4 linked regions of the Homo sapiens genome follow. The protein of the gene in region 4 interacts with the protein of the main gene of each other region in a biochemical or structural test. Each region holds a gene or a part of one and is shown on either strand. Other genes may lie near its edges.

Region 1 (3,500 bases), on a different chromosome or scaffold from region 4:
AAGCAAATCTGACCAAGAATTTGTAGTTACCTCTGAAGATTAGAAGAAACCAGGCCTCTGAAGCCATAAAACAGAGGATTATGTGGGAAGGCATTTTTTTCAAGACAATAGAACAATTTCCCTTAGAAAAGCTGGCCTTTTTCCCTTTAATTCATACATGGGTGTTACCTGAATCTGAACAAACCTCGAACGAATCTTTAGAGCAAATAATGAAAATGTTATACCTCTTAATGCATGTTCCCAGTTTGGTTGGTGGGGGTTGGTGGTGACTGGAAGAGGCCAGTGGTTAATTTCACATTTAGGTATTTCCATCTAAAAACTGAATTCCCATTTATTTACTTTGTTTGCTGGTTGTAGCAGGTAAGGACAAACAGAGGGTAAAATCCTGGCCTTTTTACAGACATGCTCAGCACGTCTACTTATCTGTTTAAATAAATTCTCAAATTTAGTCTCTAAACTGGGCGTGTTCCAACTAGCTTAATAGGTGGTAGCGTGGTTGTCAAATGTTAATCTGTTCTTTCCTGGAGATGTTGTAAAAATTTGGAGTAGAGTGGTGCTTTATTTAAAAAAAGAAAACTTATAATGCACTCTCCTTTTCATTGAATTCCCAATACATATATTATTTCCTGTTCCAAATTTTGTATGCAAAAGCACCTAGACTTAAGATAATTTTTAGATGTCACACATTTGAAAGAATCAAACATTTTGTCAAAGGTTGTACAGGTAGAGTTTGCCCTTAAGCATCTTACTTAGTCAAATATGTACTTGAAAGACTTCACCAGTATGAAAGCCTAAGTGCCAATCATGGAATTTTCTTTCTCCTCCTAGTTCTCAGCACAGATATTCTACACCTCACGCCTTCACCTTTAACACCTCCAGTCCCTCATCTGAAGGTTCCCTCTCCCAGAGGCAGAGGTCGACATCCACACCTAATGTCCACATGGTCAGCACCACCCTGCCTGTGGACAGCAGGATGATTGAGGTAATAGGGCACCTTGGGGGTGGTAATGTCAGTCAATTAATGGGGTGAGGTTGATACTTATTTCAGAGTTTTGGGTTTCAAATCTGATCAAGGAATGTTGCAACACTTTCTCAGGTCTCTGGACTTTTACAGTTTATTTTATATCCATAATATCTTCAGACTGGCTGAATAGTCTGGTTAGTATATCATTCAACTGGAGAACTAAAACTTCCTGAAAAAATGTTAACATTTGAACTCTTCCCATTATCAGATTTGAATAGGCTATTAATGAACAAGTGTCTAAGATATTTAAAGAGCAGTTTAGTTTTGGTGTGGGACAGAAATTAACAGTGATGGAGAACTACAGATTCTCTGGAAGACTTTTGTGATTTTATTTAGAAATAAAAGGGTGGAGTCCTAGGACTTTAATAAGCAGGTGTTTGGGGAGATGTCAAAGTGCCCAAAGCTAGTGTTTTTGAACTGCTTTTTCTTCTCTTGGCTTTTTGGTTATGTCCTATTGGTTTAATTTGCTTTCTGCTTCATCTTTAATAACAACTGAATACACTTAAATACTTCCTTTGTTCTTTATTCTTCTTTATTTCTCATTGCTTTGGACTAGAATAACAACCTGAGTGCTTCTCCCAGGGCGTGGTCCAGACGATTTTGTTTGAGGGGAAGAGTAGGTATTTTTCTTCATGCCTTTGCTTTCTTGTAATTAACAGGATTGCTAAAACTGTCAGACAGCAGACTACCAAAAATGAAATAGTTGCTAAGTTAAATTTATATTTCTTGTCACTTGTTTCCATGTTTTCTTTTTCTTTCTTTCTTTTTAAAATTTTTTTTGGCAGTAGAGTATATAGAAGTAAAAAAAATGTTGTATGTGGTATTGATGATAGGTGAAATGAATTTCTGAAGTTAGGCCAGGCATGACGGTGTATGTCTGTTGTCCCAGCTACTCCAGAGGCTAAGGCAGGAGGATCACTGGAGCCCAGAAGTTCTAGGCTGTAGGGAGCTACAATTGTGCCTGTGAATAGCCATTGCACTCCAACTGGGGCAACATAATAAGAATCCACCTTAAAAACAAACAAAAAATGTTAAGTTAGATTTTGAGGCCAAGGGCATTAAAAAGTTTTTTTTTTAAATCAATTCCAACCAAAGGCTAATGTTAGACTTACTTAGTTGGTGCTCACAGCATTGGTATTCTGTTTATACATTAGTAACCAAATGTGTTTTTGGTTGATAAACCCTAGAATAAATATTCTTTATTGAAAGCTTATCAGAGACAACTATGCTCTCTCTCATCATGTAGACACCTGCTGCCTTAGGCACAGTTTATCTCATTCAGACCTCAAATCACTTTCAACATAATTGTCCTGCCACTATTGTGAGGAGATCATGTATAAGCTATAAATTTTATTATTTTGACTTTATCATTATGATTAGTCCTGATAATACAATAATATACCAGTTACTGCTACTTCTATTAAATGGTTTGTTCCTGTATGAACACTGTAATACTTACAGGGAACAGTAAAGGTCAGAATTGGCTGGGTGGGAAGATCACTTGCGACCAGGAGTTCAAGACCTACCTGGGCTATATGTAGCAAAACCCCACCTCTACAAAAAAAAATGTAAAAATTAGCTGGGCTTGGTGGTGTGCACCTGCAGTCCTAGTTACTCAGGAGGCTTGGGCAGGAGGATTACTTGAGCCCAGGAGTTTGAGGTTGTAGTGAGCTGTGTATGATTGTGTCAAGTAAGAATTTTTGAGTTTTTATTATAAAAGAATTAGCACAATTGTTGTGCCTAATCATTTTTTACTTTAGAAGCAGGGTAAATTTTGATTCCTGTTAATTTAATCACATATAAGTCAGCATTTTTAAAGTAGACTAATTGTTGCTTTATTCAAATTATTTGTGGGTCTCAAATTATTCATAGTTCTCTTGAGTATTTAGACTCCAGGAACAATAGGAAAATTCTTTCTAGAATAAATTGATCCAACTATAGAAATTAGCACAGAATAAAATATGGGATATTTAATTGATACAGGGAAGAAAATTACCATAACATTAAGGAAAATATTCTGCTACATAGGAATATAATTGTGGTTAATAAAAATAAATTGTGCTTTGCTTTAAAAACAAAGAACAGCTTAGTTGGATAATGAAATTACAGCTGCCGATTTCTATTGAAATCCACATTATTTTTTGCCAGTGTTTTGCCCACCTGGCAGTTATCCTGCTGTACTTAAAAACACACATTCCTGGACTTCTCACATTCCCCTCCAAAACATGCTCAGTCAATCGTGGGTCGGGGATTAGGGGTGGATCTTCATTCTTCTTTCCAGAGTCAGAATCACTCTCCAGGTAATTCTGAAGACTAGCTAGTTTTGGGAACCAGAACTAGGCTTTCTTGTTAAATTCCGAATTATGTTTTGGGAGCAGGGGAACAGCTTGGTTTGATTCTTTTTATCTAATTATATAATTAGATATATAATTTTATCTTTTTATATAATTGAGTGGGAGCATTCTAGTAATAGTTG
Region 2 (3,500 bases), on a different chromosome or scaffold from region 4:
ATCTGAGGTCAGGAGTTTGAGACCAACGTGGTCAACATGGTGAAACCCTGTCTCTACTAACAATACAAAAATTAGCCGGGCATGATGGTGGGCACCTGTAATCCCAGCTACTTGGGAGGCTGAGACAGGAGAATCCCTTAAACCCAGGAGGTGGAGGTTGCAGTGAGCTGAGATCGCGCCACTGCACTCCACCCTGGGCAACAGAGCAAGACTCCATCTGGAAAACAAAGAAACAAAAAAACAAACAAAAAACCCAAAAGCCTTTAGCTATTATTATTACCACCTGAGGTCACCCCTCCCCTCCTACATTTCCTTACTGCATTTATCTATCCAATCTTGCAACTACTTTCTATCTGATCTAATTTAGATACCTACACACTGGGAAATTCTCAGCTTGCTATATACAGATAGTACAGGGCCACTGAATAAATAAATGAACAAATTCTAAATAATCACTCTTTTAGCCTGTCCACAAGAAAACCTACATTTAATGTTTGAAGAAAGATAAAGAAAAGATTAAAGAAACAGAACTTCAAAGCAAGAACTACAGTTCTCGAAGTGAACCAGTAGCATCAGCATCACTAGAGAACTTGACAGAAATGTAGAATGCTACTTCCCACCCCAAACCTACTGAAACAGAAACTCTGAGGGTAGGATCCACTTTTAACAAGCCCTCCAGGTGATTCCCTTGCGGCTGAATCATGAGCTCAGAGTGCAAAAAGTAACATAAATGGCAGCACAGAATGAGCACTGGATCAGGAGTAGATTCTAGGCTTCACTCTGCCATTGACCTTGCACAAGTCTCTTAACTTCTCAGAGCCTCGATTTCCTTATGTGATACAGGGATGATAACACCCAAATAGTTAAATGTTGTGAGGGTTAAATGAGATTCTATGTACAGAGTTTGCATATAGTTGGTACTTAATAATTATAAGTTCCTTCCAGTTATCTTCCTGTATATCTCACAAGGTTGTGAACACTAAATAAAATGACTGAAGCAAAAGGGCTTTGCAAATTCCTGCCCTTGAACATCAGACTCCAAGTTCTTCAGCTTTGGGACTCAGACTGGCTTCCTTGCTTCTCAGCTTGCAGATGGCCTACTGTGGGACCTCATCTTGTGATTGTGTGAGTCAGTACTCCTTAATAAACTCCCCTTAATATAAACATCTACCCTATTAGTTGTGTCCCTCTAGAGAACCCTAATACACATAGCAATCTGAGGGACAACTAACTATTCTTGGTACAAATAGCCAGGTTAAACGTCTACCATTCACAGGATATTATGAAGTAGTTTATGTCCAACACCAGTCAGTCTACAAACAAACTCTGCAACAGAATATCTGCTTCTTGCCTGTTTATTAAAGCAGAACAATGAAGAGAATACATGCCCACCACCCCCAATATTCTGGTCAGAATTAACTAACTACTCACTGATCTTTGAATCTAAACTTTACTCTTGGAAAAGGATTTTCTGAAAACTTTTTCTAGCCAACACAAGGAAAACTGCAAACTGCTGCAGACACAATGGACCTGACTTGGGGAACTCCCCATGTATGTCATCCAACTCCAAGCAGTTGTGGAAGGCTGAGATTAAGACAGTTAACATTTTGAAGCTTGTTGCAGAACAGAAAATTAAGAAATACAAGTAAGTACTCTTTCTTCCACCACACTTCTTAGCCTCGCACACCATGGCTAGGCTTTCTCTCTCTTTTTTTTCTTTTTTGGAGATGCAGTCTCGCTCTGTCATTCAGGCTGGAGTGCAAATGGCACGATCTCGGCTCACTGCAACCTCCACCTCCCAGGTTCAAGGGATTCTTCCGCCTCAGCCTCCCGAGTAGCTGGGATTATACGCGCGTGCCACCATGCCCAGCTAATTTTTGTATTTTTAGTAGAGATGGGGTTTTGCCACATTAACCAGGCTGGTCTTGAACTCCTAACCTCAGGTGATCCACCCGCCACGGCCTCCCAAAGTGCTGGATTACAGGTGTGAGCCACCGCACCTGTCCAGCTTACTCTCTCCCTAAACCATGCTTTCTACTCAGGAACTGCCCTCCAGAATAAAGGGCGGGATGGATGCAAGAAATGCACAGTTAACTATGTCAGACTGTGGTCTTAGCCGCTAACTTGAGATGAACACGCTAAGTGTTCTACTAAATCGTACCAGGTTAGAATGTTCACATGAGGCCCACGCATAAGACAGAGTAAGAATTACTCCACCAACCGCTCAGACAGACCCAGGACACCTTTTGTGAGCATGTTACCTCTACCGAAGGCTCCCTAAGAGCAGCTTGTTAATATTTGTATCCCCAGAGCCTGGCACAGGCCTGGCCCCCCACAGGCACTCATAACTGCCTACTGAAGTGAACAGACAAAATTATTTAGGTGTAAGCCCCATGCAGCTGTTGAGAAGTATTATTTTATAAGCAGGGAAAATTAGGTCCAAAGAGACTAAAAGTTGAAGTCAGTTAAAGAACGTAGTCTTTGGGCCGGGCGCAATGGCTCACTCCTATAATCCTAGCACTTTGGGAGGCCAAGGAGGGTGGATCACGAGGTCAGGAGTTCAAGACCAGCCTGGCCAAGGTAGTGAAACCTTGTCTCTACTAAAAATACAAAAATTAGCCCGGCACGGTGCCAGGCACCAGTAATCCCAGCTACTTGGGAGGCTGAGACAGGAGAATCGCTTGAACTTGTGGGGCGGAGGTTGCAGTGAGCTTAGATCGTGCCACTGCACTCCAGCCTGGGTGATGAAGTGAGACTCCATCTCAAAAAAAAAAAAAAAAAGAATGTAGTCTTTGATGCCACCCATCCAGAGCAGGGCTTCCTCCTGTGCCCAAACCCTACTTGCCACCACTCCCCACAGCCACCTCTGCTCCATTCAGACTGGTACTCACAGATGTGCCTGTGCCCCACTCCCTGCCTCATTCAGCTGTCCCTAGGCCCAATGATATTGTTTTCTGCATGCAGAGTTCCTACCCATCCTTTATGAACAGCCCTCAGACTCAAAGAAGCCAGTCCCTGTCACCCCAGCCTCTTCTGAATTGTTTCTGACTCCTTCAGCACTTACAATCTACACCACTCATTGTTTCATGCATCTCTGTCTTCTCTCCTGAAACCGTAAATCCATTGAGGACAGGGATCAGAGAGGGACCAGCTCTCCTTTTTTTTTTTTTTTTGGAGACAGAGTCTCACTCTGTCGCCCAGGCTGGAGCGCGGTGGCACAATCTTGGCTCACTGCAACCTCTGCCTCCCAGGTTCAAGCGATTCTCCTGTCTCAGCCTCCTGAATAGCTGGGATTACAGGCGCCCACCACCACACCCGGCTCATTTTTGTATTACTAGTAGAGACAGGGTTTCACCATATTGGTCAGGCTGGCCTCCAACTCCTGACCTCAAGTGATCCACCACCTTGGCCTCCCAAAGTGCTGGGATTACAGGCATGAGCCACCACAACCAGCCTACAGCTGCTGTTTTTAATCATTAGCTTTGTAGTTGTTATTTTAT
Region 3 (3,500 bases), on a different chromosome or scaffold from region 4:
GGTCGCGCCACCAATATCAGCTACACAGAAGGCTGAGGCAAGAGAATTGCTTAAGCCCATGAGGCGGAGGTTGCAGGGAGCCAAGATCGCGCCCCTGCACTGCAGCCTGGGCAACAAAGCGAGTCTCCATCTCAAAAAAAAAACAAAAAAAACGGAAAAGAAAAACGAAAAGAGGACTGGCCGGGCCTGGTGTCTCACGCCTGTAATCCCAGCACTTTGGGAGGCTAAGGCAGGCGGTTCACCTGAGCTCAGGAGTTGGAGACCAGCTTGGACAATGTGACGAAACCGTATCTCTACCAAAAATACAAAAAATTAGCCCAGTGTGGTGGTGTGCACTTGTGGTCCCAGCTACTTGGGAGGCTGAGGTGTAAGGATGGGTTGAGCCTGGGAGGCAGAGGTTGCAGTGAACCAAAGTTGTGCTACTGCACTCCAGGCTGCTTGACAGAGTGAGACCCCATCTCAAAAAAAAAAAAAATGGAAAAGTGCAGGGATGTACACCCATCAGAAGTGTATTGCTCCATGAATTTTCACAAGCTGAAGGTACCTGTGTAACGATCACCCAGCATCCTAGAAGCTGCCCCTGGCTTTTGTCTATGTCACTCCCTCCCCATCACAAGGAGTAAGTAGTCACACTTTCCCATATATATATATATATATATATTTGTCATTTTAAAAAATATATAGTCATGTGGCCGGGCGTGGTGGCTCACGCCTGTAATCCCAACACTTTGGGAGGCCGAGGCGGGCGGATCACAAGGTCAGGAGATCGAGACCATCCTGGCTAACACAGTGAAACTCCGTCTCTACTAAAAGTACAAAAAATTAGCCGGGCATGGTGGCGGGCACCTGTAGTCTCAGCTACTCGGGAGGCTGAGGCAGGAGAATGGCGTGAACCTGGGAGGCGGAGCTTGCAGTGAGCCGAGATTGCACCACTGCACTCCAGCCTGGGTGACAGAGCGAGACTCCATCTCAATTAAAAAAAAAAAAAAAAAAAAAAAAAAAAAAAAAAATATATATATATATATATATATATATATATATATATATATATAGTCATATATCAATTAACAATGGGGATATATTCTGAGAAACATGTTGTTAGGCACTTTCATCATTGTGCAAACATCATGGAGTGTACTTACACAAACCGAGATTGGTAAAGCCTGCTACACACCTGGGCTGTATGGTATAGCCTATTGCTCCTAGGCTACAGACCTCTACAGCATGATGCCGTACAGAATACTGTAGGCAACTAACACAATGGTAAGTATTTGCATATTGAAACATAGTAAATATAGAAAAGGTACGGTAAAAATACGGTGTTTTGGGACCACTGTCATATATGCAGTCCATTGCTGACTGAAATGTTACGTGGCACATGACTGTTTATACATTTTCCTATTTTTGTCATTTTAAGTATTAAAAGTAACTTCTTTTCTTCTAAAAGTAATATACATACCTGGATGTGGTGGCTCATACCTGAAATCCCAGCACTTTGGGAGGCCAAGACGGGCTTATCACCTGAGGTCAGGAGTTCGAGACCAGCCTGGCCAACATGGTGAAACCCCACCTCTACTAAAAATACAAAAATCAGCTGGGCATGGTGGTAGGTGCCTGTTATCCCAGCTAGTCGGGAGGCTGAGGCAGGAGAATTGCTTGAACCTGGGAGGCGGAGGTTGCAGTGAGCCGAGATGGCACTACTGCACTCCAGCCTAGGCGATGGAGTGAGACCCTGTCTCAAAAAAAAAAAAAAAAAAGCAAAGTGTTTACAGCTTTGCATAAAGTTTCCTGAAGCATATATGCATTTTAAAATATTTAAAAAAATATTTAAAAAGCTGAGACTACAGGCACCTGCTACCACGCCCGGCTAATTTTTTTGTATTTTTAGTAGACACGGGGTTTCAGTGTCTCGATCTCCTGACCTCGTGATCCGCCCGCCTTGGCCTCCCAAAGTGCTGGGATTACAGGCATGAGCCACCGCTCCTGGCCCTAAAATATTTTTTATACTGACGTATTTAAAAAGTATTGTATTTTTTTAATACAATACTTTCCAGGTATTGTACCATGTGCATTTATAATATTTTTCTACATCATCAAAATAACTGATTACTCCTAAGAGCATTTCTTAATATCATACAATATCTGGTCCTTTTTCCAATTTACCCACTTGTTTCTACAATACCTTTTCAGCAGATTCATCTACCTTTGTAACTAATCCACTATCAGCTATTCATATTCATTTAAAAGACTTTTGACATATTTCATTTCTACCCTAGGTATAAAAAAATGTACTGCCCTAAACTTTTGCCAACTTTGGGTATTATTAATGTTTTTGCTGATTTGTTATATTATTTCTTTATGAGTATTGTTATTTTTAGAGACAGGGTTTCGCTCTGTCACCCAGGCTGGCATGCAGTGGTGCTATCATAGCTCACTGCAGCCTTGAACTCCTGGACTCAAGGAATCCCCTGCCTCAGCCTCCTGATTAGTTGAGATCACAGGCATGTGCCACTACACCCACCTGATTTTTTTTTTTAGAAGGAGTTTCGTTCTGTTGCCCAGGCTGGAGTGCAATGGCGCAATCTTGGCTCACTGCAACCTCTACCTCCCGGGTTCAAGCGATCCTCCAGCCTTAGCCTCCTGAATAGCTGAGATTACAGGCATGCACCACCATGTCCAGCTAAGTTTGTGTTTTTAGTAGAGACGGGGTTTCACCGTGTTGGTCAGGCTGGTCTCAAACTCCTGACCTCTGGTCATCCACCCGCCTCAGCCTCCCAAAGCGCTGGGATTGCAGATGTGAGCCACCATGCCCAGCGCTAGCTAATTCTTTTACTTTTATAGAGACAAGGTCTCGCTATGTTGCTGAGGCTGGTTTTGGCTTCCCGCCTCGGCCTCCCAATATACTGGTTTTACAGGGTATCCAGCCTATGTTCTTTATTTTAAACTTAACATTGTAGCCCAAGCTTTTAATTTTGATGTTGGGAATTCTCCAAAACCATCATTTAAACATGGATAGGTAATGTTCCATCACAAGGGTTCAGAGTATGTTCTTCCTGGGGTCCCCGAGTTAGCTGTTACAGCTTTTCCCGTCTAATCAGTAAATAAGCCTCCAGTGGTGGAACTCGTGGTCAAGGTTCTGCCTTCTGAGTTCATGTGTTTCTCCCTCCTCTACATCAGAATCCACCTCATTGCCTGGAGATCACGCCACCATCTTCAGAAAAGCTGGTCTCAGTGATGCGGTTAAGTGACCTCTCTACAGAAGATGATGACTCAGGTCACTGTAAAATGAACCGTTATGATAAGAAGATTGATAGTCTAATGAATGCGGTTGGTTGTCTGAAGTCTGAGGTGAGGGAGGTAGGGGGCTGGGATAGCTACTACCCTGAGGATGTGCAGGAGCACCCAGGTGGATTTCCTGCCTGGTCCCTCAGCCTGCGTCTGCAGGCCTTCAGGCCTCCTCTGCAGGGTTGCCCCGGGCTTCAGTTGCCTGCCCCGGGAGG
Region 4 (3,500 bases):
GCATATGTACCCACTGATATGATGCACTAAGAAAGGCCTGTCACCTCTGTGGCGTTCTTGTGAAAAATACGTAACTTCCATCTAATCATGAGAAAACATCAGATAAACCCAAATTGAGGGATATTCTACAAAATAACTGGCCAGTAAACTTTGAAAGTATCTGTCAAGGTCATTAAAAACCAGGAAAGGCTGAGGAACTGTCATGGATGAGAAGACATTAAGGGGACATGGTGACTAAATGCACTGTGGGATCCTGGATTGGATCCTGGAACAGAAAAAAGACAACAGCAGAAAAACTGGTGAAATCTGAATAAAGTCTGCAGTTTAGCTATGAAGGGCACTGTTGGGCAACTGAAGAGATTTGAGTATGAACTTTATAGTACAAAACAGTATTGTGATTAATGTTAATGTGCTGACTGTATATGGAAGAATAAATGGAATTATGTATTTGGTTTTAAGAGACACATATTTAAGTGTCATGATGCTGCAAAAAACTCTCAAACGATTCAGCAAAAAAAAAAAAAAAAATTATATATGCAGAGGGAGGGAGAGGAAAAAAAGGAAGAGACAGAGGAAGGGGAGATAAGAGAAAGGGAAAGGGTGAGCCTTAACAGCAGGAGCCATTTCTGCCTCCATGGAGCCTGGTATCCTTTATACAATCTTTGTGCTCTAGGATCTCATAAGCTAGTTGGGAAACAGTCTGAACTTAAGAAGAAACAACCACAACAGTAAGGCAGTTACGGTGTGTACAAAAAGAGTAACACAGCAAAGGCTTTGCAGAAAAGGAACTAGCAAAAAGAGGATTTTATTTAGTCAAGTATGCCTGAAGGTTTGTGTTGGAAAATACTAAGTAAGAGGCAAAATATTGGGCCAATTGGTCTTTATTCTATAGTATGCTGGTCCCTCCAGATGCTACATGAAAAAACAAGGTGTAGCAAAATAACTCTGGGAAACAATGCATTCTATCCTTTGATCCTTTAGGTTCACAATGTACATTAGCTTACTGAAGGATCCTAGAAGCCTTTCAGTCAACAGACCTAGTTATCCTTGTGTAATCCAGTGTTCACCAATCTTAACTGAATACGGGATTCTTTCTTCAGGGAACTTTTCACAACCCTGCCAAACTTCCACAGAATATGCTTTAGGAATGTCAAAGAAACAGAAACCTCTAAAGGTTTCTAAATGATTTGGGGGATAATCCAAGTTGTGTTTAAGAAATAATGATAACTATTATATAATATTAAATGTTCTTACAATGTGCCAGGCATATGGTTGAAAGTTTCTACATAATCTAATTTCAAACCTAAAAGGTATTTTCATTATTTTATGGGTGAGAAAACTGAAGTTTATTTAAGAGAGGTTAAGTAACCTTCATAAAGCCATCGTGCTAGTAAAAGGGAGAACCAGAATTTGAATCCAGGTCTGTCTCTATGATCTTGATCATGTGTTCAGATTGCCTAGGCTAGTCCAACTTTAACCAGCACATTATGCAAGCATTGTGGTTGGAATGATAAATTATGAGATCACTCAATTGTGACTCCAAACCCATGTTCGTAACTGTCATGCTGTATTACCTGTCAAGAAGATTCATTAGGCCCAATCGGTAGAGGATGCATTAGAAAAAGACTGAGGGAGGAAGCCTACAGACTGCTCATGAATTTTAAGAACAGACTAGATAAGAATTAAAGTAGTGATTCTGAATTGGGGGCAGTTTTGACCACTGGAGACATTTGGCAATGCCTGGAGACATTCTTGGTTGTCATAACTGGGGGCATGATCGGGTGGGGGTGGGTTTGCTCCTGGTATCTAATGGGTAGAGGCCAGAGATGCTGCCACAGTACACACATGACAACATCCCTGGCCCTCCCCCCACCCTCCAACAAATAATTATCTAACAAATGTTAATAGTACTGAGGCTGAGAAGCCCTAAAGAGACATATACGCAGAATGGAGAAAGTCCAGTTAGTCTCCTAAATTACCTCCTTGTCACTCTATTCCACCCATGAAAGAACTTTTAACAGGTTAAACTGGAAAACAACTCAATGATCTATGTCATGGAACCCTTTTCTTTGAAAAGGCTTTTGAATCTCCACATGACAATGTTTATTAAAAATCAATCAAAATGTTTATTAAAAACATATCTTCCTTAATATCTGATAAATTTTTTAAAAAATCAGAATAACGTTGATGACTCTGCCATCCCAAAAAGCATTTTTAATTTGGTCATGTATAAGGTATCTGCTCAGAAAAATGTACAGATATGAACAGCAAGACATTAAAAAAATCTTTAAAAATTAGCAAGCTTGTCTAGCTCACCCTATTTGTTGTTGTTCTGTTTTGTTTTGTTTTGTTTTAGGCTTTAGCAGCCTGAAGCCATGGTTTTTAGTCTGTCTCTAGTGGTAAGTGGAAAAGGAGGATGAGGAAGGAGCTTTACTGGCCCAAACAGAAACTAAGAAACCATGACTATATTCTCTCCCTTGGATACCCCTGCAAAGCCTTTAAAACAATGAAACTAAAAAGTAAAACAGTTATATAAGAAACCTTGGACATCATAAAAATCAGTAAAATTCAAATAAACAAAACAAAAGCTGTAATTTCCTGGAATTATGGAATAAAAATAAAATTTGGATTTTCCAAAATTAGGTAAAGTAGCTTTATTGTATCTTAAAAACACTATCTACGAACCATCAAAAAACCCCAAACCCATAATGATATGATTATGGAATAAAGCTACTTACTAAAGCAGCAACGTACACTTTGTAGACAGGGTCAGCACAGACCATTGACAGAACGCTGCAGCATGCCTCCACCACATCTCCTGAGATACTGGTCTGGGAAGACCCACTGGTGGCTCCCCCACTCGGGCTGCTTCCACTGCTGCCCCCAGAATTTCCAGTGCTCTCCCCATTTGCCAACAGCAGGGCCCCACTGACATCATGGGAAAGACGCCTGAGGGCCATCTCTCTCACATTCCAGTTTCTAGAAAATAAGCAGCCAACGAGTTCCATTCCAAACACCTGTATCAAACACACACGATGAATTCAATGTAAAGAAAAGCTTATGGACCCAGAGCATTTTGAGTTTAGCATCATTTTTGATTACTACGTAAAAACTGGACATTTCTGAAATCTTTACCATCCTTCACAACTTCAAATATATCCAGCCACTTAAGCATCATAAGGAAGAATTTTATACTCAAGTTTAACTGATAATTATCCAAAGTCATTAATATTTATTAGCTCAGGTAAAATTAATAATAAGCTCCATTAAGTCACTAGATGGCTATACATACATTCTATGCCTCTACTGTCCCACATGCTTACCAAAACGCCAAAAAACTGTGAAAACCTCAACTCTGTATTCATATTAAGGTAGTTTAAAGAGAAAAACTGGAGCAAGATTAAGAAAACAAACAAACAAACAAAAAACAAATCAAAAAAAGCACCAGGAGAAGGTTTCAAGAGATATAGAGTATTTCTCTTACAGACAAGAGCAATAAG

What was found. Proteins that work in one complex are often made in the same cells at the same time.
Region 1: the proteins of MAP3K1 (region 4) and RAF1 form a complex in vitro, tested with the Homo sapiens proteins (one study listed by BioGRID).
Region 2: of the proteins of MAP3K1 (region 4) and TOM1L2, one has a biochemical effect on the other in vitro, tested with the Homo sapiens proteins (one large-scale study listed by BioGRID).
Region 3: of the proteins of MAP3K1 (region 4) and ODF2, one has a biochemical effect on the other in vitro, tested with the Homo sapiens proteins (one large-scale study listed by BioGRID).

Annotation. Positions count from the first base shown.
Region 1 is NC_000003.12:12,601,618-12,605,117, reverse strand, and holds part of RAF1 (RAF proto-oncogene serine/threonine-protein kinase), read left to right. Parts: intron 1-828; coding exon 829-982; intron 983-1,580; coding exon of another isoform or gene 1,581-1,640; intron 1,641-3,500. UniProt on the Homo sapiens protein: Serine/threonine-protein kinase that acts as a regulatory link between the membrane-associated Ras GTPases and the MAPK/ERK cascade, and this critical regulatory link functions as a switch determining cell fate decisions including proliferation, differentiation, apoptosis, survival and oncogenic transformation.
Region 2 is NC_000017.11:17,965,901-17,969,400, forward strand, and holds part of TOM1L2 (TOM1-like protein 2), read right to left. Parts: intron 1-3,500. UniProt on the Homo sapiens protein: Acts as a MYO6/Myosin VI adapter protein that targets myosin VI to endocytic structures. May also play a role in recruiting clathrin to endosomes. May regulate growth factor-induced mitogenic signaling.
Region 3 is NC_000009.12:128,466,006-128,469,505, forward strand, and holds part of ODF2 (outer dense fiber protein 2), read left to right. Parts: intron 1-2,919; exon of another isoform or gene 2,920-3,177; coding exon 3,178-3,348; intron 3,349-3,500. UniProt on the Homo sapiens protein: Seems to be a major component of sperm tail outer dense fibers (ODF).
Region 4 is NC_000005.10:56,874,549-56,878,048, reverse strand, and holds part of MAP3K1 (mitogen-activated protein kinase kinase kinase 1), read right to left. Parts: intron 3,018-3,500; coding exon 2,739-3,017; intron 1-2,738. UniProt on the Homo sapiens protein: Component of a protein kinase signal transduction cascade. Activates the ERK and JNK kinase pathways by phosphorylation of MAP2K1 and MAP2K4. May phosphorylate the MAPK8/JNK1 kinase.